Linked DNA regions of Homo sapiens. The protein of the gene in region 3 interacts with the protein of the main gene of each other region in a pairwise test. Each region holds a gene or a part of one and is shown on either strand. Other genes may lie near its edges. The genes, in order: LMNB2, NTAQ1, LZTS1 and CARD9.

Region 1 (7,013 bases), on a different chromosome or scaffold from region 3:
TGGAGGCTCCAAGAGACACAGGGGCCTGCCCAAAGCCACACTAATTGAAAAGCAGGGGACTGGCCAGGCACGGCGGCTCACACCTGTAATCCCAGTACTTTGGGAGGCCGAGGCAGGCAGATCACCTGAGGCCAGGAGTTTGAGACCAGCCTGACCAACAAGGCCAAACTCTGTCTCTACTAAAAATACAAAAATGAGCCGGGCATGGTGGTGAACACCTGTAATCCCAGCTACTCGGGAGACGGGGGCAGGAGAATCACTTGAACCCGGGAGGCAGAGGGTGCGGGGAGCTAAGATCGCGCCACTGCACTCCAGCCTGGACGACGGAGCGAGACTCTATCTCAAAAAAAAAAAAAAAAAAAAAGAAAGAAAAGCAGGGGATCCCACCAAGCACTGATCTTCCTTCTACCTCCCTGAAGGCACCAGCTACATTCTTTCAGGTTCCCTGTCCCCAGGGCACTGTGAAAACAACCCACAGGGAGCTACTGAACAAAAGTTAACCTGCTGTGGCCCCACACACAAGTAAGAGGTGGGTATTATAATTACACCCATTCCAAAGGCGAGGGCACTGAGACCCAGAGAGGGTAAGCGACTAGCCCAAGGTCACACAGAGGGTAAGTGGCTCCCAGAAATGACCCGACCCCCTCAACAAGCAGCTCTTCTCCCAGAAGCCCACCACGTCCTCTGATCTCCAGATGGGCGAGTGGGGACTGGGCGCTGCAAATCCCGACTTCGGCACCCAGCTCTCCCAACAGGACACTGGGGCCTAGGGACCCCAGGACCCCAACCCATGGCAGGAATCAAGTGGGTGCTCCTGCCTGCCCCCCGTTCTGGAGTCCTGTCCTTGGATTGGGCATGGCCAGTGGGAGGGACAAAGAGCCTCCCCAGGGTTAGGTTGGGGGGCAGGACAGATTGCACCCAGACCCCAAGACACCCCGACCTCATGTCCCCTTGGTGGGCAGACTTTCCCGCCTCTTCTCCTTCAGTCTGCACTGAAGCCTCGGGGCCCATTCAGAACCTCAACACTTTCCACCGGACCCAAGATCCCAACTCTCACCCTTCCTTCATATTCTCTTGGGGGCAGAACCTGCCAGACCACCGCTGACACCAGGGCACAAATAAGGGACTCCCAAATTTCCCGTGGGACCCCAAGGTATCAGAACCTCTCCCTCGGCCCCCTACCCACCCTGGGCCTGGTGAGAGATGAGGGGCCTAATTCCCACCCCAGTCACCAATCTCTTCTGGATTCATCAGGGAACTCGCTAAAGCTCCAGGGAGAACTGAGACCACGTGACTCACCCCAGAGACTCCAGGGAGACCCCCCACACACCCCATCTTGGGCCTCCTCAGAGGGCCTGGGCCCCCCAGTCTCCTTGGAGCCCAGAGACCACCCCCATTCCACCCCAGATACCCCAATACCCAGCTTCATCCCCAGAGACTCCCACTCACACCCCCTCAGTTGGGGGGGGTCCGCCAAGTCTCCTTGGAATCCTCTGAGGGACGAGGCATATGGGGGGCTGCAGCCCAATACTCAGGGAGCCCCCAAATCCCCAGGACCTCTCTTTGGTGGGGAGCCCTAGTCTGTAACCCCCATGGCCCCAAAATGCACCTCTCACGGAAGGGTCCCCAGAGCTAGCTGGAGGCCCCTCTGCAGCCCTCACTCAGGACACGGAAGATCTCCTGGGACCCCCTCCATAGGTGGGGCATTCCTGGTCTGCACTTTTCACTCAGTGCCCTAGAAACCCCCTGGAGGTCCCCAAGAGAATGGGCCACTCCGGTCTGCACCCCTCCCAAGGGGTCCCCCAAGATCTCGGAAACTGCGGTGGGCAGGGCCTGCCCAGGTGGCACCCCTCACTCAGGGTCTCCCCCTGGAGATCCCCGAGGCCAGGCTGACCCCACCCCTGCTCAGGGTCCCCCGTGATCGCGTACTCCGCGGTGGGCTGGGCCTGGCCGAGCTGCACCCCTCACTCAGGGACCCCTTGAAACCCCCTGGAGACCCCCAAGCCGGGACCCTTCCCGGTCTGCACCCCTGCCCAGGGTCCCCGCGATCGCGCACCCCGCGGTGGCCAGGACCTGCACCCTTCATCCAGGAGCCCCCCGCAAACCCCCTGGAGACCCCAAGCCGGGAGTCGTTCAGAGTCCCCCGCGATCGCGCGCCCCGTGGTGGGCGGGGCCTGGCCGAGTAGCACCTTTCACTCAGGGACTCTCCGAAACGCGGCGGAGATCCCCGAGGCCGGACTGTCCCCGTCTGCATCCCAGCTCAGGGTTCCCCGCGACTGGGAGCCCCGCAGTGGGCTGGGCCTAGCCGAGCAGCACCCCTCACTCAGAAGCCCCCAAACCTCCTGGAGACCCCCGAGCCGGAGCCTGTCCCCGTCTGCACCCCCGCCCAGGGTCCCCGCGATCACGCACCCCGCGGTGGGCGGGGCCTGGCCGAACTGCACCGCTCACTCAGGGGCCCCTCGAAACCCCCTGGAGACCCTCGAGACCCGGGCCCGTCCCTGTCTGCACCCAGGGTCCCAGCGATTGCCCACCCCGCGGTGGGAGGGACCTGGCCGAGCTGCACCCCTCACTCAGGGGCCCCCCGAAACCCCGCGGAAACCCCCGAAGCCGGGGCCCGTCCCCGTCTGCACCCCCGCCCAGGGTCCCCGCGATCGCGCGCCCCGCGGTGGGCGGGGCCTGCCGGCTGCACCCCCGCCCGGCCCCTAAGCCCCGGCGCCCACCTCGCGCGTGGTCACCTCCTCCTTCTCTGAGATCTTGAGCAGGAGCCGGTCGTTCTCCAGCTCCAGCGCGCGGACGCGGTCGATGTAGTGCGCCAGGCGGTCGTTGAGCTCGCGCAGCTCCTCCTTCTCCTGCAGCCGCGACAGGCGCGTGGGCGACAGCGGCGTGGCGGGCCCGCCCGCGCGGCCGGGCAGCGGCGTGGCCATGGTGGCGGCGGCTCGCGGCCTGCGCTGCTCCCGACGGCGGCCCGGGCTCGGCGGGCTCATTCAATCCGCGCCGCCGGCTGCAAGATGGCGCCGCGCCGCGCCGCGCCCGCCGCCCGCCGCGGCGGGGCAGCCTGGGACTGGTAGTCCGACCGCCGGGCGCGCGCGGGGCACGCCGGAAGTTGAAGTCTCCGTCCAGCTCTCGCTTCGCAGAGGCGCTGACTCCAGAGACAGACTTCCTGGCTGCAAACTCCCAGCTCCGCCACGAGGAAACAGCGTTGGGTTGCTTTCTAGTACCTGTTTCCCCACTTAGAGAACCTCAAAACGTGTTCAAAGAACCAGACACAAAAGGCCATATAGGGCCGGGCGTGGTGGCTCACGCCTGTAATCCCAGCACTTTGGGAGGCCAAGGCCGGTGGATCACTTGAGAAAAGAATTTCGAGATCAGCCTGGACCACATAGGGAGACCCCCCCACACCATCTCTACTACGGAGGCGCGCGCCGGTAATCCCAGCTACTTGGGAGGCTGAGGCAGGAGAATCTCTTGAACTTGGGACGTGGAGGTTGCAGTAAGCCAAGATCGCGGCACTGCACTCCAGCCTGGGCAACAATGAGAAACTTTGTCTCAAAAAAAAAAAAAAAAAAAAAAAAAAGCCATATAGTGTACAATGCCACTGATATAAAATGTCCAGAAGAGGCTGTCAAGGAGTATGAATTTCAACAAATTGAGTTTAATGATCTCATTGGCTCTTATTAGCAATTCATGAATTGGATAGCATTCAATCTATTAAATAGGCACTCCAATGAGCTGAGCAGAGAGGATGGGCATTCTGCATTACAGGCAGAAAAGGCTGAAGAAAGGAGAAATAAGAATTAAAATAAAAGCCAGGCCAGGTACAGTGGTTTGCTCACGCCTGTAATGCCAGCACTTTGGGAGGCGGAGGTGGGAGGATAGCCTGAGCCCAGGAGTTTGAGACTGGCCTGGGCAACATAGCAAGACCCCATTTCTAAAAATAAAAATAAAAAAATTAGCCAGGTGCAGTGGCTCACACCTGTATTCCCAGCACTTTAGGAGGCCAAGCCGGGCAGATCATGAGGTCAGGAGTTCGAGACCAGCCTGACCAATATGGTGAAATCCCGTCTCTACTAAAAATACAAAAATTAGCCAGGCATGGTGGCACATGCCTGTAGTCTCAGCTACTCGGGAAGCTGAGGCAGGAGAATTGCTTTAACCCGGGAGGCGGAGGTTGCAGGGAGCCAAGATTGAACCACTGCACTCCAGCCTAGGCAACAGAGTAAGACTCCACCTCAAAAAAAAAAAAAAAAAAAAATTAGCTGGGCGCCTATAGTCCTAGGTATTTGGGAGGCTAAGGTGGCAGGATTGTTTGAGCAAGAGAGGTCAAGGTTGCAGTGAGCCCTGATCACATCACTGCATTCCAGCCTGGGTGACAGAGTGAGAGTTTGTCTCAAAAAAAGTAAAAATAAAAATACGAAATAAAAACCAATTGGTTGTTTCAAAGTTACTTTTTTCATAGGGTCTGTTTTAACCCCCTCTATTTTGAGGGTACTTCCCTATCAGGTTAACCGGTCCCCTTTGGCTTGGTGGCTGTGAATGTTTTTTTTTGAAAACCTGCACCCTTTAAAGTTCAGTTTGAGGCCAGGTACGGGTGGCTCTCACCTGTAATCTCAGCACTTTGGGAGGCTGAGATGGGGAGATCGCTTAAGCCTAGGAGTTTGAGAACATCCTGGGCAACATAGTGAGACTCTGTCTCCAAAAAAAAAAATTTTTTTTTTTTGGAGACAGAGTCTTGCTCTTGTCACCCAGGCTGGAGTGCAATGGCATGATCTCGGCTCACTGCAACCTCCACCTCCTGGGTTCAAGCAATTCTCTGCCTCCCGAGTAGCTGGGATTACAGGCACCCGCCACCATGCCCAGCTAATGTTTGTATTTTTAGTAGAGACCTGGTTTCACCATCTTGGCCAGGCTGGTCCTGAACTCCTGACCTCGTGATCCACCCACCTCGACCTCCCAAAGTGCTGCAGTTACAGGCGTGAGCCACGGCACCCAGCCAAAAAAATTTTTAATAATTAGCCACATGTGCTGGCACACACCTGTAGTCCCAGCTCCTCGGGAGGCTGAGGCAGGAGAATGGCTTGCATCCAGGAGTTCAAGTCTGCAGTCAGCCATGATTGCGCCACTGCACTCCAGTGTGGGCAACGGAGCGAGACCCTATTTCAAAAAATAAAAAAAATAAAAGATCAGTTTGACTACGTGGTACCTGGCACTAGTGACTCCATTCCAATTTTATCTGGTCTGCTGGGGACTAGAGACCCCATTGTCTAAAACAATGGCCTGCCATACATTTTATTTAACAAGGCCAGGCGCGGTGGCTCATGCCTGTAATCTCAGCACTTTGGGAGGCCGAGGCGGGCAGACCACCTGAGGCCAGGAGTTCGAGACCAGCCTGGCCAAAATGGCAAAAACCTGTCTCTCCAAAAAGTACAAAAATTAGCCAGGCGTGGTGGTGTACGCCTGTAATCCCAGCTACTTGGGAGGCTGAGGCACGAGAATCGCTTGAACCCAGGAGGCAAAGGTTGCAGTGAGCTGAGATCACACCACTGCACTCCAGCCTGGGCGACAGAGCAAGACTCCGTCTCCAAAAAAAACCCCCCAAAATTGTAATTTAACAAGACAACCTATACAGCAGTGTTTCTCCAACTCTGCACTAGATATTTGGGGCCAGATCACTCTCTGTTGCAGGGGGTTGGAGTCAGGAGGTGCTGTCCATTACAGGGTATTGAGCAGCATCCTCGGTCTCCACCCACTCCATGCCACGAGCATCCCAGCCTCATACTTATTTTTTATTTTATTTTTATTTTTAGTTGAGGCGGGTCTCGCTCTGTGGCCCAGGCTGCAGTGCAGTGGCGTGATCTCGGCTCATTGCAACCTCCGCCTCCCGGGTTCCAGCGATTCTCCTGCCTCACTCTCCCGAGTAGCTGGGATTACAGGCACTTGCCACCATGCCCGGCTAAGTTTCTGTATTTTTAGTAGAGACAGGGTTTTGCCATGTTGGCCAGGCTGGTCTTGAACTCCTGACCTCAAATGATCTGCCCGCCTTGGCCTCCCACGTTGCTGGGATTACAGGCGTCAGCCACCGCGTCCGACCCCGGCCCCCTAGTTATGAAAACCAAGTATGTCTCCAGAGATTGCCACATGTCACCAGAGGGGCAAAATTGCCCCAATTGGAGAATAACTTCCTCCTGACCTAGAACTGGCCCGGTCTTCCTTCTGCCTGGGGAACTCCTCCTTTTTACACATCTCACCTTGGGGGTTTGGCTCAGCCTCTGCCAGAGACCCCAGTAAATCACACACTGAGAATCTAATGCCCTTTCCAGCCTACTGAGGACACCAGGGGAAAGAGCCCACCTGCCTCCAACAGCCAACATTCACTCGCTATTATTCCCCTCTTACCAGATAGACCCCCAGCCTTAGAACCCAGGCAGGAAGCCTGGCATGGTGGCTCACACCTGCAATCCCAGCCACTCTGGGAGGCTGAGACAAGAAAATGGCTTGAGCCCAGGAGTTTGAGACCAGCCTGGGCAACATAGCAAGACCCAACTCTACAATACTCTACAGTTTTTTTTTTTTTTTTTTTTTTGGAGACAGAGTCTTTCTGTCCCCCAGGCTGGAGTGCAGTGGCCCAATCTTGGCTCACTGCAACCTCCTCCTCCTGGGTTCAAGAGATTCTCCTGCCTCAGCCTCCTGAGTAGCTGGGATGACAGGCATGCGCCACCATGCCTGGCTAATTTTTGTATTTTTGTAGAGTTTCCTCATGTTGGCCAGGCTGGTCTTGAACTCTGGACCTCAAGTGATCTGCTCACCTCGGTTTCGCAAAGTGCTGGGATTACAGGTGTGAGCCACTGCACCCGGCCCCTACAAAAAAATTTTTTTAATTAGTTGGTCGTGGTGGCGTGCATCTGTATCCCCAGCTACTTGGGAGGCCGAGTCAAGGAGATGGCTTAAGCCCAGGAGGTGGAGGCTGCAGTGAGCTATGATTGCACCATTTCACTCCAGCCTGGATGACAGCGCAA
Region 2 (7,021 bases), about 100 Mb from region 3:
ATGGTGTTTCACCATGTTGGCCAGGCTGGTCTCAAACTCTTGATCTCAAGTGATCCACCTACCTCAGCCTCCCAAAGTGCTGGGATTACAGAGTGAGCCACCGTGCCCAGCCTATGCTTATTTTTAGAGACAGGGTCTCACTCCATAGCCCAGGCTGAATGAAGTGCAGTGGCTCAACCACAGCTCACTGCAGCCTCAAACTCCCAGCCTCAGCCTCCTGAGTAGCTGGGACCACAGATGCACATCACCACACCCAACTAATTTTAAAAATTATTTTTGTGTGTGTGGAGACAAGGTCTTGCCATGTTGCTCAGGCTGGTCTTGAACTGCTGAGCTCAAGCAATCTTCCCACCTCAATCTTCCTAAGTACTGGGATTACAGGTATGAGCCACTGTGCCTGGCCTTCTCAAGAGGCCTGATTTTTAGAAAGTTCTTTCTCATACTGAACTGAAATCAATCTTCCCATACCTTTGCCCCAGATGAATCTCTCTTCTACGTGACAGGTCTTTGGCTATCTGAAGCAGTAGTCAGAACCCACCTAAGTAAAGTGATGCCCAGTAGTACATCAAACAGAGCAGTAACTGAGCTGCACCTCCATGCACAGGAAACCAGTCACTTCGGGCAGTACTCACAGCTCAGCTGTTGGGTTCCTATCTTTTTCTAGTAAGATACACGCACCTTTGCTCAAAATGAGGTACACTAACACTCTGTTCACAGAATGTGGCTCAGTCTGTCAAAGCCTAGTTTCTTTTTTGCAGGGGGGAGCGGGGACGGAGTCTCGCTCTGTCACCCAGGCTGGAGTGCAGTGACACAATCTCAGCTCACTACAACCTCCACCTCCTGGATTCAAGCGATTCTCCTGCCTCAGCCTCCCAAGTAGCTGGGACTACAGATGCATGCCACCACTTCTGGCTAATTTTTGTATTTGTAGTAGAGATGGGGTTTCACATGTTGGCCATCACATGTTGGCCATGGCTGGTCTTGAACTCCTGACCTCAGGTGATCCACCTGCCTCGGCCTCCCAAAATACTGGGATTACAGGTGTGAGCCACCACGCCCGGCCCAAAGCCTAATTTCATCCACGCCATGCTACCTAAAAATGAAGCAAGGCATGAACAGCCCTGAGGATGGTCACCATCTTACAGAAGTAGACACTCTTTCAGTTCATCAATCTTTGCCTTGCCTGTCTCAAATGCTCTATAAAACTAGGCTTAAAATACGGAAGTTGGACATGTTTTTCTCCCATGGTTTTCCTTTTCTCTAAAATAACTAGGAAACTACAAGGGAAAAGTGATGGTTGTGGTTAAAAAAAAAAAAAAGTGGGGGGGTGGGAAGATTGCTACTGCTACTGACTACTTCATATGATATGTACTATAGAGTAATAAAAATTTACTGACTGGGCCGGGCATGGTGGCTTACGTCTGTAATCCCAGCACTTTGGGAGGCTGAGGCACGTGGATCACCTGAGGTCAGGAGTTTGAGACCAGTCTGGCCAATATGGTGAAACTCTGTCTCTACTAAAAATACAAAAATTAGCTGGGCGTGGTGGCTGATGCCTGTAATCCCAGCTACTCGGGAGGCTGAGGCAGGAGAATCGCTTGAAACCAGGAGGCGGAGGTTGCAGTGAGCCAAGATTGTGTCACTGCACTCCAGCCTGGGCGACAGAGAGAGACAACCTCTAAAAAAAAAAATTTTATTGACTGTTTCAACATGACATATGGTATATGTCATATTACGTCACAATAAAATTTCCTTAATCTAAATGTTCTAAGGCCAGGTTTGAAGAAGACAATTATCTCTCTGGCTTATACAAGTTTTTCGGGAGTTTACCGCAAATACCTTCAAGAGCTTATAATGTACAAAATACTGTGCTAAGTGCTTGGAGGATATGATGATAAATTAGAGCTTACAGACCATGAGCAGAGACATACAAATCCATAACTGGCAAGCATCATAGAAGGCCATAAAAGATGCATGCAGAAAGGAAGAGGGTGTCATTAATTCGGAGGGATATGGGAAGAGGTATAGGTTGTAGTTTCTCTTTGTTCATTCCCCTCTAAGGGTGGGCTTAGAGTTAATACAAAGGGGCCAGGCGAGGTGGTTCATGCCTGTAATCCAGGCACTTTGGGAGGCCAAGGCAGGCGGATCACCTGAGGTCAGAAGTTTAAGACCTTGGATCACCTGAGGTTGGGAGTTCAAGACCAGCCTGGCCAACATGACGAAACCCTATTAAAAATACAAAAATTAATGGCCAGGCGCAGCAGCTCACGCCTGTAATCCCAGCACTCTGGGAGGCCGAAGCGGGTGGATCATGAGGTCAGGCGTTCAAGACCAGCCTGGCCAACATAGTGAAACCCCGTCTCTACTAAAAATACAAAAAATTAGATGGGTGTGGTGGCAGGCACCTGTAATCCCAGCTACTCAGGAGGCTGAGGCAGGAGAATTGCTTGAACCTGGGAGGCGGCGGTTGCAGCAAGCTGAGATCGTGCTACTGCACTCCAGCCCAGGCAACAGTGCAAGACTTCGTCTTAAAAAAAAAAAAATACAAAAATTAGCTAGGCGTGGTGGCACAAACCTGTAATCCCAGCTACTTGGGAGGCTGAGGCATGAGAATCACTTGAGCCCGGGAGGCACAGGTTGCAGTGAGCCAAGATCGCACCACTGCACTCCAGCCTGGGTGACAGAGTGAGACTTCATCTCAAAAAAAAAAAAAAAAAACGCATAAAAATAAAAACACAAAATCAGCCGGGCGTAGGAGCATGCACCTATAATCCCAGTTACTCAGGAGGCTGAGGCACAAGACTCACTTGAACCCGAGAGGCAGAGGTTGTAATAAGCCAAGATTGCACGACTGCTCCTCCAGCCTGGGTGACAGAGCAAGACTCCATCTAAAAATTAAAAATAATAATAATAATAATAAAAACTACAAAGAGTTCATGAATCCACAGATACCACAAGCACCACTGGTAAGCTGAATACATAATGTGGCTTGAACATACACTGTTATTTTTGAAATATATGTAAATGTTACACAGAAAAAAATGTAAACTTCGTAAAAGTCACTGACTTTTTAGTCCCTTTTAGTCAGCAATTGTTTTTCAAGAGCATAACGAATATCATGTAGGAGAATCCCATGAAAGTTTCAATGTTAAAAAAAAGGGGGAGATGATCTTATACTCGGAAATACAAGGAGTCACAGCTGAAACAAAAATACCTGTAGGTGGGGTGCAGTAGCTCACAACTGTAATCCCAATGCCTCGGCTGAGGTGGGAGGATAACTTGAGCTCAGGAGTTTGAAACCAGCCTAGGCAATGTAGCAAGACCCTCCGGAAAGAAAAAGAAAGAAAGAAAGAAAAAGAGAAACAGAAGAGAAGGAAAAGGAGGGAAAGGAAGGAAAAGGAGGGAAAGGGAGGAAAAGGAGGGAAAGGAAGGAAAGGAGGGAAAGGAAGGAAAAGAAAGACAAAGAAAGAAAAAAGAAGAGAAGAGAAAACAAAAGAAGAGAAGGAAGGAAAGAGAGAGACAGAAAGAAAGGAGGGAAGGAGGGAGGGAAGGAGGGAGAGAGGGAAGGAAGGAAGGGAGGGAGGGAAAGGAAGGAAGAGCAAGCGAGTTGTGGAAGAATTAGAAGAAACTATTCTAAAACTCATATGCACCAAAAAAGAGCCCAAACAGCCAAAACAATCCTAAGCAAAAAGAACAAAGCTGTAGGCGTCACACTACCCAACTTCAAATTATACTAGAAGGCTATAGTAACCAAAACAGCATGGTACTGGTACAAAAACAGACACACGGACCAATGGAACAGGTTAGAGAACCCAGAAATAAAGCCGCATATTTACATTTACAACCATCTGATCTTCAACAAAGTCCAATAACAAGCAATGGGGAAAGGATTCCCTATTTAATAAATGATGCTGGGATAGCTGGCTAACCATATGCAGAAGATTGAAACTTGACCCCTCCCTTTCACCATATACAAAAATCAACTCAAGATGGATTAAAGACTTAAATGTAATACCTAAAACTATAAAACCCTAGAAGAAAACCTAGGAAATACCACTCCAGACATAGGCCCTGGCAAAGATTTCATGATGAAGACTCCAAAAGCAACGGCAACAAAAACAAAAATTGACAAGTGAGACCTAATTAAACTAAAGAGCTCTGCACAGCAAAAAAAAAAAAAAAAACTATCAATGGAGTAAATAGACAACCTACAGCCAGGCATGGTGAGGCTCGTGCTTGTAATCCCAGCACTTTGGGAAACCCAGGCAGGAAGATCACTTGAGCCCAAGAGTTCAAGATGAGCCTGGGCAACATAGAGAGACCCTGTCTCCACAAAAAGTAAAAAAAATTAACCAGGCATGCTGGCACACATCTCTAATTTCAGTTGCTTGGGAGGCTGACGTGAGAGGATTACTTGAGCCTGGGAGGTCAAGTCTGCAATGAGCTATAATTGTGCCACTGCACTCCAGCCTGGGTGACAGAGTGAGACCCTGTCTCAAAAAAAAAAACCCAAAACAAAAAACAGACTACCTACAGAATGCAAGAAAATATTTGCAAACTATGCATCTGATAAAGTCTAATATCCAGAATCTATAAGGAACTTAAATAAACAAGCAAAAAACAACCCCATTAAAAAATAGGCCAAGGACATGAACAGATACTTCTTCTCAAAAGCAGATAGGCACAGTGGCTCACATCTATAATCTCAGCACTTTGGGAGGCCAAGGCGCGTGGATCACTTGAGGTCAGGAGTTCAAGACCAGCCTGGCCAACATGGTGAAACATTGTCTCTATTAAAAATACAAAACTTAGGCTGGGCGCGGTGGCTCACGCCTGTAATCCCAGCACTTTGGGAGGCCGAGGCAGGCGGATCACGAGGTCAGGAGATCCAGACCACGGTGAAACCCTGTCTCTACTAAAAAAAAATACAAAAAATTAGCCGGGTGTGGTGGTGGACACCTGCAGCCCCAGCTACTCGGGAGGCTGAGGCAGGAGAATGGTGTGAACCCAGGAGACGGAGCTTGCAGTGAGCCAAGATCACGCCACTGCACTCCAGCCTGAGCAACAGAGCAAGACTCCGTCTCAAAAAAAAAAAAGAAAAGAAAAATACAAAACTTAGCTGGGCATGGTGGTGCACACCTGTAATCCCAGCTACTCTGGAGGCTCAGCTGGGAGCATCACTTGAACCTGGGAGGCAGAGGTTGCAGTGAGCCGAGATCGAGCCACTGCACTCCACCCTGGGCAACAGAGTAAGACTCCATCTCAAAAAAAAAAAAAAGGAAAAAGAGACATGCACATGGCCAATAAGCATATGAAGAAATGCTCAACAACACTAATCATTAGAGAAACGCAAATCAAAACCACAATGAGATACCATCTCACTCCAGTCAGAATGACTATTCTTAAAGTCAGGCCAGGTGCAGTAGCTCACATCTGTAATCCCAACAGTTCGGGAGGCCAAGGCAGGAAGACTGCTTGAGCCCAAAAGTTCAAGACCAGCCTGGGCAACATGGCACAACCCCACACTACAAAAAATATAAAAATTAGCTGGGCATGGTGGTGCACACCTGTAGCCCCAGTTACTCGGGAGACTGAAGTGGGAGAATTGATTGACACCAGGTCGAGGCTGCAGTGAGCCATGATTGCACCACTGCACTCCAGCCTGGGTGACAGAGTGAGATTCTGTCTCAAAAAAATGAATAAATAGGCCGGGTACGGCAGCTCATGCCTATAATCCCAGCACTTTGGGAGGCCGAGGCAGGCAGACCAAGAGGTCAAGAGATCAAGATAATCTTGGCCAACATGGTGAAACCCCGTCTCTACTAAAAATACACAAATTAGCTGGGCATGGTGGTGCATGCCTGTAGTCCCAGCTACTTAGGAGGCTGAAGCAGAACCGCTTGAACCCAGGAGGCGGAGGTTGCAGCGAGCCTAGATTGCACCACTGCACTCCAGCCTGGTGACAGAGTAAGAATCCGTCTTAAATAAATAAATAAATAAATAAAAATAAACAAATAAAAATAATTTAAGAAGTCAAAAAAGTGGTGATGCCCACCTGTACTCCCAGCTACTTAGGAAGCTGAGGTGAGAGGATCACTTAAGCCCAGGAAGTTGAGGTTGCAGTGAGTCATGATCATGCCACTGCACTGTAAGCCTAGGTGACAGAGTGAGACCCTGTCTCAAAAAAAAAAAAAAAAAAAGGCAAAAAATAACAGACGCTGGCAAGTTGGTGGAGAAAAGGGGATGCTTATACACTCCTGGTGGGAATGTAAATTAGTTAAGCCACTGTGGAAAGCAGTTTGGAGATTTTTCAAAGAACTTGAAACAGAACTATGATGCGACCTAGCAATCCCATTACTGTGTATATACCCAAAGGAATATAAATCCTACTATTAAGACACATGCACATATATGTTCATCACAGCACTATTCATGATAGCAAAGATGTAGAATCAACCTAGGCACCTATCAATGGTGAACTGGATCAAGAAAATGTGGTATATATCATCCACCATGGAATACTACACAGCAATGACAAAGAACAAAAATCATGTCATTTGCAGCAACATGGATGGAGCTGGAGGCCAATATCCCAAGTGAATTAACACAGGGACAGAAAAGCAAACACTGAATATTCTTGCGTATAAGTGGGAGCTAAACCTTGAGTACACATGGACACAAAAAAGGAAACAGTAGACATGGGGCCTACTTGAGGGTAGAGGGTGACAGGAGGGTGAGGATCAAAACTATCTATCTGGTAGTATGCTCACTATCTGGGTGACAAAATAATTTGTACACCAAACCCCCAACACATACACTTTACCCATGTAACAAACCTGCACATGTAACCCCAAATCTAAAATAAAAGTTGGAAGGGAAAAAAACTCAAACAAAATATGTGATTGGATAATATCTGAAATGTTCTTTAAACTCTAAACAAAAGCATAAGGGACTCAAAAAAGGGAGAGAGGGAGGGAGGGAAGAAAGGAATGAAGGAAGGAGGGAGGGAGGGAGGGAAGAA
Region 3 (7,572 bases):
AATGAAGTTATGAATCATAATGCTAGTGATGATGATGATTAACAATTTCTTGAAGTCATGCAGCACTTTCGAGGAAAGTAGAAAAACTACTTTCATTTTATCTCATTTGTCTTTATAACATGCAGAGAAGACAGAGGAGAGATGGTCCTGGCCAGGCGTGGTGGCTCACGCCTGTAATCCCAGCACTTTGGGAGGCCGAGGTGGGCGGATCACAAGGTCAGGAGATCGAGACCATCCTGACTAACACAGTGAAACCCCGTCTCTACTAAAAATACAAAAAATTAGCCGGGCGTGGTGGTGGGCGCCTGTAGTCCCAGCTACTCGGGAGGCTGAGGCAGGAGAATGGCATGAACCCGGGAGGCGGAGCTTGCAGTGAGCCGAGATGGCACCACTGCACTCCAGTCTGGGCGACAGAGCGAGACTCCGTCTCAAAAAAAATAAAAAATAAATAAATAAATTTAAAGAAAAAAGAGATGGTCCTTCCAATTCAGAGACAAGTCTCCTGAAGCCCAGAGATAAGAGATTCAAGGTGGTCAGAGACCTACAGGTAAGGAATGAAAATTCTTGTTATAAAAGTTGCACATTCAAAGCAACTCCACGGGAACTGTTTTCTACCCTGGAAAAAGACAGGGATGGTAAGACATCTTCTAAGGTCATGGGACCATTGGCTCTGACTGCAGAAAAACTGCTCTCCCTGGACCTTTACTGGGGTCACTGGGAAATCAGGAGTGGCCTCAGTTGATTCCTTAAAGCTTTGCTCAGTTGTCTAGGCTCATATTTTTTCACCGGCTTTTGGAGATTATCCAACCTCACTTAAATATAGTCAGCATTTCTTTTCTCTTAACACAAGGCCCTGGATTTTGAGACTTGAAATAATATTAAAAAATTATTTGATATTTTGTATTTTTCATAACACCTTTGACTTTATTAATTCTTTTCATTTTGTATTGTTGCCAAAAGATAGATAGGGAAAATGTTATTAGGCTTCTTTCACTGATAGCAAACTAAACCTCCAAAGGGTTGTGAGAAGACTGCAGATTGGAAGAAGTAGGAATACACGTGGATTTTCTGAATTTGAGTCAATTTATCTCTCTGAAACATCATCTCGCCTCCCTCCCCTCATAGCACTCATTCTAGTATTTTTTGAGCGCTTGCTTTGTACCAATAATGTGCTGAGTTCTGTGGATTCAATGTTGACTAAGACAGACATGATCTTTGAACAAGAAACTTGCAGAAGAGATGAACAGACAAACAAGAAGCCAGGGAATTAATTAAATTGTGATAGGTGACAGTACCTTGAGGAAGGCAGAGTTGTCTGTAATCCAAACAAGCTGCTGGCTTAACTGGTCTATGGGTCTGGTCCAGTGTGGCCAATCTTAGGTCCTAGAGATGAAGCATGATGCTCTGTATCTCAGGTGATGAATACAGGAGGAGGGTAGGAGATTTTTACAAGAAATGTTTTGTGACCCAGCTTTCTAGACTCGACTCAGGCAAGGGAGAGCCTGAGGGATGCAGAGTTTCACATAAGACACCTCTCGGGAACCCAGACACTAAGGAAGGGCAGCGCCCCTTCACTAGACAAGGAAGAAAAGGAGCCACACTGAGAACCTACCGGTGGTGTTGGGGGTAGACACACCCAGCCATTGCATTACCATACCCAACTGCTGAATCAGGGAGCTAATTATGGCTTTGTGCTGCTGGAGACCACATTCCTGAGGCTTTCATGCACACATACGGAACCATAATACATACACACATGCTGTGCTGTCCATCACTGGTCTCCTTCTCCACTCTGCCTTCTCATTTCCAGCCCCACTCTCTATGCATTCTGTCTCTAAAGTATCCCTTCCACAGGGTGTTTCTGTTGTTCCATAGGGTATCCCATTTCCACCGCTCATACACAAACCAACACACTGCTCATACCCTTTGCCTGACTCAGTCATTCCAGGAAGGCTGCACATCATACCCAGCTTTCACCTAGAATGTCACTGACAAAGGTGTCAGTGCTGAAGGAGGGTCCTTAAGGAGTATCTTCTCATCCAAACCATCCACTTTCCAGATGAGGAAACTGAGGCCTCATCAGGGACTCCAAACCATCCACTTTCCAGATAGGAAACTGAGGTCTCATCAGGGACTCCAAACCATCCACTTTCCAGATGAGGAAACTGAGGCCTCATTAGGGACATGGCTTGTCCAAGAGCATATAGTCAGCAGTAGGGCCAGAACAAAAAGTGGGCTTCCAGAGTCCTTTGTCTCTTCCATGGAATCTCACCTCCGACGATGTGAAAATGAGTTTGAAGTCTGGAGCCCACCTCATACCTTAATCTACCTTCCAGGAGTCTGCTCTTTCCTTAAAGCGCTGGAATGTTTGATCGATATTAACTCATTCAGCTAAAATTCTTGAGATACTCTCACCAGCAAGCAAGAATACATGTTCTCTGTCAATAAATGCAACACAAAGAAGCATGGCGCTTTAGAAAAAGAAGACATTATTTTGCCCTGGACGATAAGAGAAGGTGTGAGTAAGGGTTCCATATTTTGTCTCAGATTTTGAGAGGTAGAGTTAGAAGAGCAGGAGAAAAGCTTTTCAGACTGAGGGGCAGGTTTATACAAAGGTGGGGAAAAGGAGGTGATGTTCAGGAAAAGGCTGAGTAGCCTTTGGGGTTGACACTTAGAAATTGTCGTATTGCTTGTAATTACTGCCACGTGTATGTACTTACCGCAAGGCAGTGGGTTTCATTTAATCATCAGAACAAACCTATACATGAGAAATTCATTCATTTAACAAATACATATTGAGTGCCTACTATGTTGCCTGGCAAGTTCTAGGTGTCGGGGATACATCTATGAATAAAACAGACCAAGTCCCTCAGCCACCAATAAAAGAGAACAAGTTCCTGCCTTCAGGGAATTTACACTGGGACTTGTTACCTCATTTCACAAATAAAAAAAGAAAGAAAGAAAAAGAAAAACTGAGAAAGAGGGAGGGGAAGGTAATGGCTCAAATAACAAGCAGCGAAGCCTGTCTGTGTTCTTAAACCCTCGCGGTGCCATCTTTCAGGAAGCCTAGATTCGAAGGTCAGAGTCTTCAGGGTCAACAACCGAAGGCAGTGAGATTCCCCTACAGGGTTTTGAGCAGGGGTGTGGCAGAAACCATATGGCTTGTTTTCCTTTGAGCTGTCCCCCCTGCCACCACAATTCTATTTAATTTTTTTGTATTTATTTATTTATTTATTTATTTTGAGACACGGTGTCACTCTGTCACCCAGGCTGGAGTGCAGTGGCACTATCTTGGCTCACTGCAACCTCTGCCTTCCAGGCTCAAGCAATTCCCAAGCCTCAGCCTCCCAAGTAGCTGGGATTACAGGCTCCTGCCACCACACCCAGCTAATTTTTGTATTTTTTTTTTTTTTTTTTTTTAGTAGAGACGGGGTTTCACCATGTTGGCCAGGCTGGTCTTCAACTCCTGACCTCAAGTGATCCACCAACCTCGGCCTCCCAAAGTGCTGAGATTACAGGCATGAGCCACCGCGTCCGGCCCCCATGCTATTTATAATCAGATCGGCTATGTCAATCCTAATCCATTACATCTATCCCCCACCCCCCAACACACACACACACACACACACACACACACACACACACACACAGGCTTCTTTCAAGATGAGGCTAACACTCCTTGGGCAGAGCTGCCATCTTCCCGCCAAGCCTGGTTTTAGAGGATTAGCCTCAGTGCACCCTCAAGCCCCCAAGCCTCATGCTGCACCTAGCACTCCGGTTAACTGACCCTTTGTCCTACAAAACCTTGTAAGCTTGAATCCTCTCCTGGCTCAGTTGCTAGAAGTTAAAAGTGAGGGTGGTTGAGAAAATGATAGTATTATAAGGGGACTGGGTGAGACTAATAGCTATAAACTTGAAACAGGCCTCTGCTGTCACCTGAAACTCAGCTCCCTCAGAGCTGGAAAAGTTTGCTTTTGACATGTTTTGGGAGTGGGAGTCCCGGTGCTCTGGACTCTAGCCTGTAATCCTGGTGTGGTTCGCAATGCCCCTCACTTGGGTGCTAGTCCAGTCCTTGAACAAAACACACGCCCTTTAGTGCGAGTCGGGAGCGGGAGAGACGGTATTAAGAAAAATAAACTGGCGATTAAGAGGAAGGGGTAATGAAGAAAGGGGAACATACACAGAACGGGAGAAGGAATGGATTTTAAACAAAACTGGAGTAAGAATTTCAGGTAATGAAAGGGAAAAAAGGATGCGACAAGAGCAAGACAGGAACAATCGGAGAAAGGGGGCCAGGCAAGAAAGGAAGACTGAGGGGGCAGGGTCGCCCAATGGGGCTGATGGAAGTGAGAGCAGAGAGACGGGACCCGGGACCCCGCGCAGGCCGCGGGCGCGAAGGAGCCGCGAGGTCGCGAGCAGCCCCAGCTGTCAGCCCGGAACAAAGGCCGCCGAGCGGCACAGACCAGGCTGCCGGCAGCTCGCTGCCAATCAGCGGCGCCGGCTCTGGCCCCGCCCCGGGCCGGCCCCGCCCCGCCCCGCCCCGCCCCGCCCCGCCCCGGCTCCGGGACCCGCGCAGAGGCCGGCGCGCCTGGAGCTGGCGGGTTGGCAGCGGCCGGGCGGGGAGGCCGAAAGTTTCTCTGCCCGCCTCGGCCAGTGAGTGGGAGCCGGGAGCTGCATCCCGCGCAGTGGGACCGGCCCGGCCCGCTCAGCAGCTCTGGAAAAAGAGAGACGGGAACACACCGGGAAACACTGGGAAAAAAAAAAAGTCTCAAGTGCGCCCGAGGCGCAGGGGGCAGGTAAGGTGCGGTGGCCGGGGATCTCCTCGCCCCTGGAGGGTCTGCTGCCCTGGCTGCGGGAAACCGCTTTCCCCTCGCCGGGCCGGACCGTCCGTGCGTCCGCGCGTCCGTCGGTCTTTGTCTGTCTGTGTCCGTGGCTGTCGAGGTGTCTTTGTCTCCGCGTGGAGCTGTCAGGGTCTCCCCTCTGCAGGGTGGGCGCCGCTTCTCCGGCCCGGCCCAGAGGAGGTGACTGTGCGTCTGTCCTCCTGTCTTTGTCTTCGTGTCTCCTGCAGACGGGGTTCGTCTATTCCCAGCACCGATGCTGATCCTGGCGGGGACGTCAGTGTTAGGTGACACTGGTGTCGGAGGTGAAGAAGTGGGAGGTGGGGACGCGAGGCCGCAGGAGCAGGGGCCGCAGGAAGAGGGTCCGGCGGTCGGTCCGGGCCGCTGAACTTCGCCGCCTGGAACTTTGCAGATGAGCTGTGTCCACACCGGTGGGGAGGACACCGGTGCGTTGCAGCCAGAGATTTGAAAGGTTTCCCTCAAGGAATAAGTCACACGGGCGGAGGTGGTTAGAGAGGAAGGTGGTAAATCGAAGTGTCTAAGTGGCTCCCTGGGGCTGCAGCTTCCTGGGGTCGGTCCTGGATGTGCAATTCAGGAATTTAGTCAAAGCACCATGCACACACAGACAGCCCCACACTACCTTCACTTCTTCCACCGCCACCCTAGGCAGCCAGACCTCACCCCTCCACCCTGCCACAGGCTTTGCTCTGGCTGGAGGGGCTTCAGAGGTCGCAGCTTGGCAGCAACAGGCATCCCCGAGACACCAAGGGCCAGGTGATGTCTCTTTTTCGTGCTCCAAGTGGAAAGGTTTGAACTGTGGAGCAAATGAGCCTTGTGCTCGCCCACGAGTATGTCAGGCCTGGGAAAGTGCTCCAGACTTGTTAGCTTCGCAGTCTTCAATTTCCCAGGAATAAGAAGTGCTTAGGGATCTGGCCTCCTAAAGTGTTTCCTGTCTCACTTATTCCCTCCACACCGTCCCGCTGCCATCAGCCCCTCTACTCTCTGGTCCCGGGCGCTGGGAAAGTACTGAGGAGGCACTGAGTTCTGGACCATGCCGGGCAGGCGCTGCTCCTAATAAGGATCCCACACTCTGCTGGAAGTGCAGCCTAATAGGAATGCTGGGAGCCCAGGAGCCCAGCCACAAAGAGATGAGCTATCTGCTTGGCAGTTCCTGCACCAAGACCCTGAGAAGAGTCTGCGGGTACCGGCAAGAGGGTGTTTGCAACCTGAGCTTTCTCTAAGTTCAAAAACAATTTTCTGCAGGCATCCAGAGGGAGAATGGAGGTGCCCGAAGAGTGTGCGCATATGGGTATTAGAGATAGCATGTACAGACGGGAAAGGTGTTTGTGTTTAAGAGTGGAGTGGAACATAGTCTGTGGGTAGAAGTCTGTGGGCAGAGAGCATGCAGGCTAATCAGGCGTGGCGTTACACCTTGTATTTATCCAGCGCTTTTCTTTGGAGGCTCTTTCTGCTCATCATAGACGTTATCTCATACGTTATCTCCTTTATCCTCACAACATAACTACCAGGTTGGTGCGGTGGGCTCTCTGTGCCTGCCAGTGAAGAAACGGAGGCGTCAGAAGGGAAAGGCTTTCCCTAAGGTCCCACAGCTAATAGGATGGAGCAACTGGGAGTCCTAGTAAGAGGTCTCAGCTGGGTGGATGTGAGTGTGGGGCGCTCACTCTGCTTAAGAAGAGAAGAAAACTAGTAGAAAAAGAACGGGCATCTCTGTGGGTGTCTATATGCAAGCAAAAGGGAGGGCGGGACATTTGATGTGCTGAAGATGGTTGTTAGTTAACATTTATAGCAGCGGCTGTGTGCTTCACGAGGTAAACCTGTCTCAGCAGTTCAGCTTGTGCATTTGTGTATCTGCAGGAGGTGCCCCCAGCTGTGTGTGCCTGGGTCGATGTGGGGCAGGGGTGCTGTCATAGAAGGAGTGCTGCTGCGTGGGGTGCCCTGGGGAAAGCCAATGCTTTGGGAGTGTGTGAGGGAAAGATGTGCCTTTCAGTTTTGAGAAGCCGTGGGTCAGCGTGTATAGCAAAGCTATACATGGGCTCCAGACGTATATAAATGGCTTTCTAATCCTGAAAACTTATTTATATGCCTTTGCGCTTATTCAACGTTCATTTCATAAATATTCATTGGGCGCCTACCAAATGCAAGGCTCTGAGCTGTGCAGCGAGGCTAGGAAGATGAATAATGTAATGATGACAGACCTATGGGTAAGCACCTTATAGACCAGTGTAATGGATAATACCGTAACACTTAATGCCAGCCACTAAATCCACTGTGTGCCTGGAACTTTTTATTCATTATCTCATTTAATTTTCACTGCAGCCCTGCGGGGTATGTATAATTATTAGATGAGGAGAGTTAAGTAATTTAGCCAGGCTACAAAACCGAGGGGCAGGGATTTGAGATCAGCTTAGTAAGGTTCTGGACCCTGGCTCTGTCCATGTTATTCTGCTACCTTTGAACATAGAAACACTGTTTCTTCTGCATGGAATATTCCTGCCTGGTCTCTCTACCTTCTCCACTTAACTGGCTCCCACTTTTTTTTTTTTTTTTTTTTTTTTTGAGACGGAGTCTTGCTCTGTCGCCCAGGCTGGAGTGCAGTGGTGCGATCTTGGCTCACCGCAACCTCCACCTCCTGGGTTCAAGCAGTTCTCCTGCCTCACCCTCACAAGTAGCTGGGACTATAGGCGCCTGCCACCACGCCTGGCTAATCTTTTAT
Region 4 (7,021 bases), on a different chromosome or scaffold from region 3:
AGCCTCATGAAGGCCGAGGACGACTGCAAGGTGGAGCGCAAGCACACGCTGAAGCTCAGGCACGCCATGGAGCAGCGGCCCAGCCAGGAGCTGCTGTGGGAGCTGCAGCAGGAGAAGGCCCTGCTCCAGGCCCGGGTGCAGGAGCTGGAGGCCTCCGTCCAGGTGGGGCCGTAGGCAGGGCAGGTGCAGCCCAGGCAGGGCAGTGGGGGCCTTCCCAGCCAGGCCATTGCCTTTTGCCCCCTTCAGGAGGGGAAGCTGGACAGGAGCAGCCCCTACATCCAGGTACTGGAGGAGGACTGGCGGCAGGCGCTGCGGGACCACCAGGAGCAGGCCAACACCATCTTCTCCCTGCGCAAGGACCTCCGCCAGGGCGAGGCCCGACGCCTCCGGGTAGGAGGGCAGGCGGGGAGACATGGCCCCTGGGGTCCAAGCCAGGCTGGACGGGCTGAGCTCCGCCCACTCCGTGCCTGGAAGGTGGGGTGTGGAGACCCCAGTGCAGCGCCTCCACTCACCCACTCCTGGAGGCACAGTGGACGGTGCCCTCTCCTTGCCCGCCTGCCCCCCATGGCAAAGGCCAACCTCTGGGCTCATGGTGCCTGAGGCACAGCAGTGTCTGAGGCCTGCCGGAGGGCCCTGTCCTGCCGCGGTCTGGAAGTGCAGGGCTGGTAGGGGCCTGGGGACTCCTATGGCCTCCCCCGACATCCCAACTGGCCTGACCACATGCTTCTGAGCCCCTGCCCGGAGTATACCCCAAGGGCCAGAATGGGGGGCCTCAGGCCTGTGGGGGCTGAGCTGCCGCCCCCTGCAGTGCATGGAGGAGAAGGAGATGTTCGAGCTGCAGTGCCTGGCACTACGTAAGGACTCCAAGATGTACAAGGACCGCATCGAGGCCATCCTGCTGCAGATGGAGGAGGTCGCCATTGAGCGGGACCAGGTGGGCACTCGCAGGGGCAGGACAAAGCACCCCACTCGCGGGTGGGTGCACCAGGGCCACGGCCCTTGAGGGCAGTTGTCAGAGGATTTTTAATCTTTGTTATTTGTTTTTGAGATGGGGTCTTGCTATGTCACCCAGGGTGGCCTCAAACTACTGGCCTCAAGCAATCCTCCGGCCTCAGCCTCCCAAAGTGCTGGGATTGCAAGCTGAGCTGCCACACCTGGTCTGTTTTTTAAATGACAGAAGCAATACTTAACACTAAAAAAAAGTAAACGATGATGAAGTCAATACTTCCCCACCCCAGCCTACTGTCAGGGAAAACCGTGTTCAACCTTCCCGCTCCACCTTACAGACTTACCTGTCATCTATCCATGTATCCATCTGTCTATCATCTATCACCTATCTATCTATTTATATATTTGGTTTTGTTTTACAAAAATGGAAACATTCTGTCTTGTTTTACCAGTAGCTTTTTTTAATCTTAAAAAAAGCTTGGCTGGACGTGGTGTCTCTCGCCTGTCATCCCAGCACTTTGGGAGGCTGAGGCGGGCGGATCACTTGAGCCCAGGAGTTCCAGAGCAGCCTGGGCAACACGGTGAGATCCCTGCTCTACAAAAAAATGCAAAAATTGGCCTGGCGCGGTGGCTCACGCCTATAATCCCAGCACTCTAGGAGGGCGAGGCAGGCGGCTCACTTGAGGTCAGGAGTTCGAGACCAGCCTGGCCAGTATGGGGAAACCCCGTCTCTACTAAAAACACAAAAATTAGCCTGGTGTGGTTCCGGGCGCCTGTAATCCCAGCTACTCAGGAGGCTGAGGCAGGAGAATTGCTTGAACCCAGGAGGCAGAGGTTGCAGTGAGCTGAGATCACGCTACTGTACTCCAGCCTGGGTGACAGAGCGAGACTCCGTCTCAAAAAAAAAAAAAATTAACTGGTCGTGGTGGCGCATGCCTGTGGTCCCAGCTATTTAGGAGGCTGAGGCTGCAGCAAGTCACCATTGCGCTATTGCACTCCAGCCTGGGCCACGGGAGTGAGGCCTGCAAGGCCTCCAGTGCTACGTGCTGTGAGCCGGATGGAGCGTCGCGGGGCAGGGCTGTGTCTGCTTCCCATGCCCCGTCCCAAGTCCCATCCTGGAGGTTGTTTCCAATGGACACCATTGCTGCTTCGGCTAAATGCTGGATGGCACTTTGTCCACATCAGGAGCCTTAAAACGAGACCCCTGGGGCTACAAAGGAAGCCCCGGCCCCCATGAGAGCAGCCCAGGCTCAGAGCTCCTGTCTCAGCCCCACCTCAGCCTCACTCGCGCCTGGCCCACGCCAAGGCAGGGGAAAAGGGCAGATCCAGCTGTGCCCCCATGGGGGTTGGTGTGGCTCCCAGGGCGGGGGCTCCCACGGGACTTCCCGGGAGCGCGTTGGCCAGGGATTAGGGAAGCTGCCAGCCGTTGCTCCAGTCTGGGCAGAAGGGGTTAGGTGAGGGCCTCCCAGCCTCGGCTGCAGGGGTGGTCAAGCCGTCGTGTTTGCACATTCGCTCCTGCGTCTCAGTGTCCGCAGTGAGGACAGGGGTGGTAAAGAGTGCTGCGGTCACGAAGGACGCTTAGCTATGGACAGTCAGGGTCTCCATATCAAGCCGCGTCCAAAATTTATCAAATGTGCACGTGTGGGGGTACATAGCACACGCTGTGTCCACCGGGGGTGCAGGCTTGGGAGGAGACAGAAGGGCAGCAGGGACAACTGTCACATTTACAATCCCCCACGTGCTGACTTCGTGTCCGCAGAGCACACAAATGGAGGGGCTGTGACCAGCCTCCGCGCCCAGCGGCTTGACGTCCTCCGGAGCCTCTGCTTGGAGTTGGGCGGCCGGGCCGAGGGCCCAGGGCAAGCTTGGGGCCCTCACTGAGGGTCGGCCTTGTGCTGTCCCGTCAGGCCATAGCCACGCGGGAGGAGCTGCACGCACAGCACGCCCGGGGCCTGCAGGAGAAGGACGCGCTGCGCAAGCAGGTGCGGGAGCTGGGCGAGAAGGCGGATGAGCTGCAGCTGCAGGTGTTCCAGTGTGAGGCGCAGCTACTGGCCGTGGAGGGCAGGCTCAGGCGGCAGCAGCTGGAGACGCTCGTCCTGGTGGGCCTGGGGCCTGCGGCAGGGAGGGGAGCCGGCGCGTGGGATGCAGGGCCAGGGGAGCACGGAGCCTCAGCCCCGGCCTTCCCGACCCAACCCTTCTCTGTGACGGGCCCCAACCTAACCAAACCCCTCCTGGCAGTGGGGTGAGGGCACACGAGCAGTTCAGGGTCCCAGCAGGAAGTGGGGCTGCAGGGCCGGGGTGGGTCCTGGGCCTGGCCATCAGGCAGCCTAGCAGGTTGTTCTGGGCATGGAGGGGGCCTGGTGTGGCTGAGGGCATGCCCAGGGCTCCCTGGAGGATCCCGCTCTGTGCCCTGCCCACCCTGTGCCTGGGGAGCCCTCTGCCCTCACAGCCCACCCACCCCATTTTCTATGACCACAGAGCTCCGACCTGGAAGATGGCTCACCCAGGAGGTCCCAGGAGGTGAGTGAGACCCCAGCCAGCACGAGGCTGGCCTTCCTTCACCTGGGGTCCTGGCTGAGCTGCCACCAGGCATAGCCCCACACTGCCCGTCACATGGCCCTGCTCGGTGGGCTGGGCTGGGTGGAGGAAGAGCAGGTGGCCAAATGCTAAGGCCTCTGATGGCTCAAGGGGTAAGGTAAGGCACGGACAGTGCCCACCTCCTGGCCGCCCAATGTCCGTCTGCTGGGCACCTGAGTCTCTGAGAAGCTCTGTGCAGGGGGTGACGGCAATGGCTGCACCCAGCTGAGGGCCAAGGGCTGGGGTGGGCAGTGTGGCCGGGTCCAGTCCTTGGCGAAGTGGCCTAATGGGACATCTTGACTCTCTTTGGAAGCTCTCACTCCCCCAGGACCTGGAGGACACCCAGCTCTCAGACAAAGGTGAGGTGGGGACAGCAGTACACCCAGAGGCCTCCCAGCTTCCCCAAGTGAGGCCCATCTTCAGCACAGGCAGCCCGTGCCGCAATGCCTGTGTCAACCCCCACAACCCCCACTCCACAGACAGGGAAACTGGGGCTGGGGATAAGTAAAATGGTCAAGGTCACCTAGAGAACAAACTACAGAGCCCAGCTGGAACCCAGGGCCCCAGCTAGTGGGACAAGTGTCCCCTGGGGTGGAGAGTGTGGGGGTCTGGGCAGCCCCCATGGGCTGCAGAGGTGAGCAGGCCCACCGTCCTGAGAGTGTGGGGCCCCTCTGGGCAGCCCCCACGGGGTGCAGAGGTGAGCAGGCCCAGTCCTGGCTGCTCCAAGCTTCCTCCTGGACAGAGGGAGGTGGTAACGAGCGAACGACCAGGTGCATGAAGCTAGAAGATGGGGCGAGATGGGGCCCCACGTGGCTTGAGGGAAAGGGCTGAATGCAGGGGTGGCCAAGGGCCTGCTGTGTCCCGGTGCAGTGGGGGTAAGGCAGTGGCAGGGGCTTCTAGCGGGCAGGGCAGGCCCCCTCTGCCTGTCTGGGGGAAGGACTGGGTGGCTAGCTGGGAGCAGCTCCCGAGTGTCCAGGAGTGGGCAGTGGTGATGAGGTAGGTGTTTGCACTGAAGGTGCTGTCAGGTAGGGGTTGGGGAGGGCCCAGCAGAGGGGTCCTGGGAGGCTGCACCGGAGTTGGACAAGCTTCCTGAGTACCAGGCCGTGGCCTCCAAGCAGAGGCGGAAGGGGAAGGAGGAGCCGCAGACGGGGAAGTGAAGACCAGCGCCTTTGGCTGCAGCTCAGAACACTTGAACATGGGGATGCCAAGCCCCCATGTAGGCACAGAGGCGAGCAGGACCCAGGAGTCCGGCTCAGGCACTGCCCCCATCCCCCTGGGTGGCTGTGGCAGGAGCAGGGGCAGGTGTGAAGGTTGGAGGGTGAGCAGGGGAGGGGCTGGCTCTAAGGGGCTGCCAATGGCCAGGACAGCCCTGGCCTGGCCCTCACCGCAGTGGGGCTGAGACTGGACGTGCGTGGTTTCTGCCCAAGGGTCCTGATCCCTGGTCTGCCCAGGTCCTGGCGGTTTCTGAGGGGGTCCAGCCGCCTGAAGGTTCTCTCCCAATTGCTGCAGTACCCCTGCCCCCACTTCAGGAGGACCCAGACAGCCACTGTAGCTGTCCCCAACTCTCTCCCCAGGGCCGCCATGCCCACAGATGCTTTGGAGTGATGGGGGACGGTGCTGCTCAGGCCCAGGGTTTAAGTTCCCCCGAGGTCTGGGAGGCGTTCCTCCCTGGCAGGCAGCCAGCTCGGGGGAGGGATGGTCACTGGCGGGAGCGTTGGGCCTGGGCTGGCATCTGGCGGCCTCCTGGAGCAATGAACAGGCAAGCGAGGCCATAAGGCCTCAGTCTCATCTACAGAAAGCAGAGTCTACACTGGACCCATGTGGGGATCCCACCAGGCCTTGGAAGACAGCCCCACTGCAATGCCGGGGAGGGGTGGGGCAGCCGTGCTATACGTGGCCCAGCAGATGGGCAGGTCCCACAGGCACGACTCTCCTTTCCAGGCTGCCTTGCCGGCGGGGGGAGCCCGAAACAGCCCTTTGCAGCTCTGCACCAGGAGCAGGTTTTGCGGAACCCCCATGTAAGGCTTCCCCGGGGTGGGGTCCTCCCAGCCGTGGGCCTCAGGGTGACCGATCACAGGGAGAGTGGCTCCCTGCCCTGGGCACCCCCTGCGGTGGCCCCGACGACAGCTGAGGAGTGACCACAAGGTCTCTGCCCACAGTGCTCGGGGTGCGGTGTCTGGGCTGCGAAGTGGATCCCCCTTTCTTGGGCACTGCAGCAGCTTGGGGGGCTTTTTGGACGTGGATGTGCCTGGTCCTGGTTTTCCGAGGGCCTTTACAGTGGATGAGGAGGTGAACACAGGAGTCCTGAGAGCAAGCACCACCTCGGGCTTTGTTGTAGAAACAATGGCCCGGACCCCAGGCTGGAGCCGTGGCTTGGCCTCCTGGGTGTGTCTTGGCATCTGAAATGCAGGCTACCCACACCGGCTCACCTCCAGGGGTACAGGCAGGTCCCACAGGGAGAGCTTGGCGCTGAGCTGAGGCTGTCTGGGCTCCTCGCCTCCCAACCAGTCTGCAGTTACAGGGGCCAGTGGGGGGCGGGTGAGAAGGACGGGTTCCCTCAGGGGAGCCGGCCGGAGCCCGAGCCTTCCCCCTTCTCCAGGACGCAGGCCTGAGCAGCGGGGAGCCGCCCGAGAAGGAGCGGCGGCGCCTCAAAGAGAGTTTTGAGAACTACCGCAGGTAGGCGGGCGGCCCCCAGGCTTCTCCAAAACGGGCTGGGGAGCGGCAGCCGGGTCGCGCCTGAGACACCTGTCTTCACAGGAAGCGCGCCCTCAGGAAGATGCAGAAAGGATGGCGGCAGGGGGAGGAGGACCGGGAGAACACCACGGGCAGCGACAACACCGACACTGAGGGCTCCTAGCCGCAGCAGCGCAGGCCCCGACCAGGGCACACCCACCGGCCCGGCCTCCTGCCACCCGGGGGTGCCGACGCCCTGGGGCGCAGACTTCCCCGAGCCGTCGCTGACTTGGCCTGGAACGAGGAATCTGGTGCCCTGAAAGGCCCAGCCGGACTGCCGGGCATTGGGGCCGTTTGTTAAGCGGCACTCATTTTGCGGAGGCCATGCGGGTGCTCACCACCCCCATGCACACGCCATCTGTGTAACTTCAGGATCTGTTCTGTTTCACCATGTAACACACAATACATGCATGCATTGTATTAGTGTTAGAAAACACAGCTGCGTAAATAAACAGCACGGGTGACCCGCATTCCCGCTCGGACACTCGCGCGCAGCCCCGCGGCCGTCCCTCCTCGCTGCGGCCCGCGGTGTCCTCGGGGTGCGAGCTGCACGTGGACGCAGGGCCCCCTCAGGCCGCCAGGGGGCGGCATAGCGCAGCGCGCCCCCGACCCGGAAGACGGAAGCCCAAGAACGCCGCTTCCGCCCGGCGCCCACTTCCAAGATGGCGGCGGGGCGGGGCCGGGGCAGGGCGGACGGAGCCGGCGAGCGGGATGCTGCGGACTGCGCTGCGCGGCGCGCCGAGGTTGCTGAGTCGCGTGCAGC

Evidence for each region.
Region 1: the proteins of LZTS1 (region 3) and LMNB2 interact in binary tests that used the Homo sapiens proteins (3 or more experiments, as listed by UniProt).
Region 2: the proteins of LZTS1 (region 3) and NTAQ1 interact in binary tests that used the Homo sapiens proteins (3 or more experiments, as listed by UniProt).
Region 4: the proteins of LZTS1 (region 3) and CARD9 interact in binary tests that used the Homo sapiens proteins (3 or more experiments, as listed by UniProt).

What each region holds. Positions count from the first base shown.
Region 1 is NC_000019.10:2,453,950-2,460,962, forward strand, and holds the start of LMNB2 (lamin-B2), read right to left. Parts: upstream 3,011-7,013; 5' UTR 2,985-3,010; coding exon 2,721-2,984; intron 1-2,720. UniProt on the Homo sapiens protein: Lamins are intermediate filament proteins that assemble into a filamentous meshwork, and which constitute the major components of the nuclear lamina, a fibrous layer on the nucleoplasmic side of the inner nuclear membrane.
Region 2 is NC_000008.11:123,419,770-123,426,790, reverse strand, and holds part of NTAQ1 (protein N-terminal glutamine amidohydrolase), read right to left. Parts: intron 1-7,021. UniProt on the Homo sapiens protein: Mediates the side-chain deamidation of N-terminal glutamine residues to glutamate, an important step in N-end rule pathway of protein degradation.
Region 3 is NC_000008.11:20,300,964-20,308,535, reverse strand, and holds the start of LZTS1 (leucine zipper putative tumor suppressor 1), read left to right. Parts: upstream 1-4,572; 5' UTR 4,573-4,796; intron 4,797-7,572. UniProt on the Homo sapiens protein: Involved in the regulation of cell growth. May stabilize the active CDC2-cyclin B1 complex and thereby contribute to the regulation of the cell cycle and the prevention of uncontrolled cell proliferation. May act as a tumor suppressor.
Region 4 is NC_000009.12:136,363,663-136,370,683, reverse strand, and holds the end of CARD9 (caspase recruitment domain-containing protein 9), read left to right. Parts: coding exon 1-162; intron 163-246; coding exon 247-390; intron 391-808; coding exon 809-934; intron 935-1,386; exon of another isoform or gene 1,387-2,855; coding exon 2,856-3,047; exon of another isoform or gene 3,048-3,060; intron 3,061-3,426; coding exon 3,427-3,468; intron 3,469-3,838; coding exon 3,839-3,884; intron 3,885-5,466; coding exon 5,467-5,543; intron 5,544-6,124; coding exon 6,125-6,201; intron 6,202-6,282; coding exon 6,283-6,382; 3' UTR 6,383-6,521; coding exon of another isoform or gene 6,522-6,559; 3' UTR 6,560-6,728; downstream 6,729-7,021. Other genes in the region: DNLZ (DNL-type zinc finger protein), read left to right, coding at 6,970-7,021. UniProt on the Homo sapiens protein: Adapter protein that plays a key role in innate immune response against fungi by forming signaling complexes downstream of C-type lectin receptors.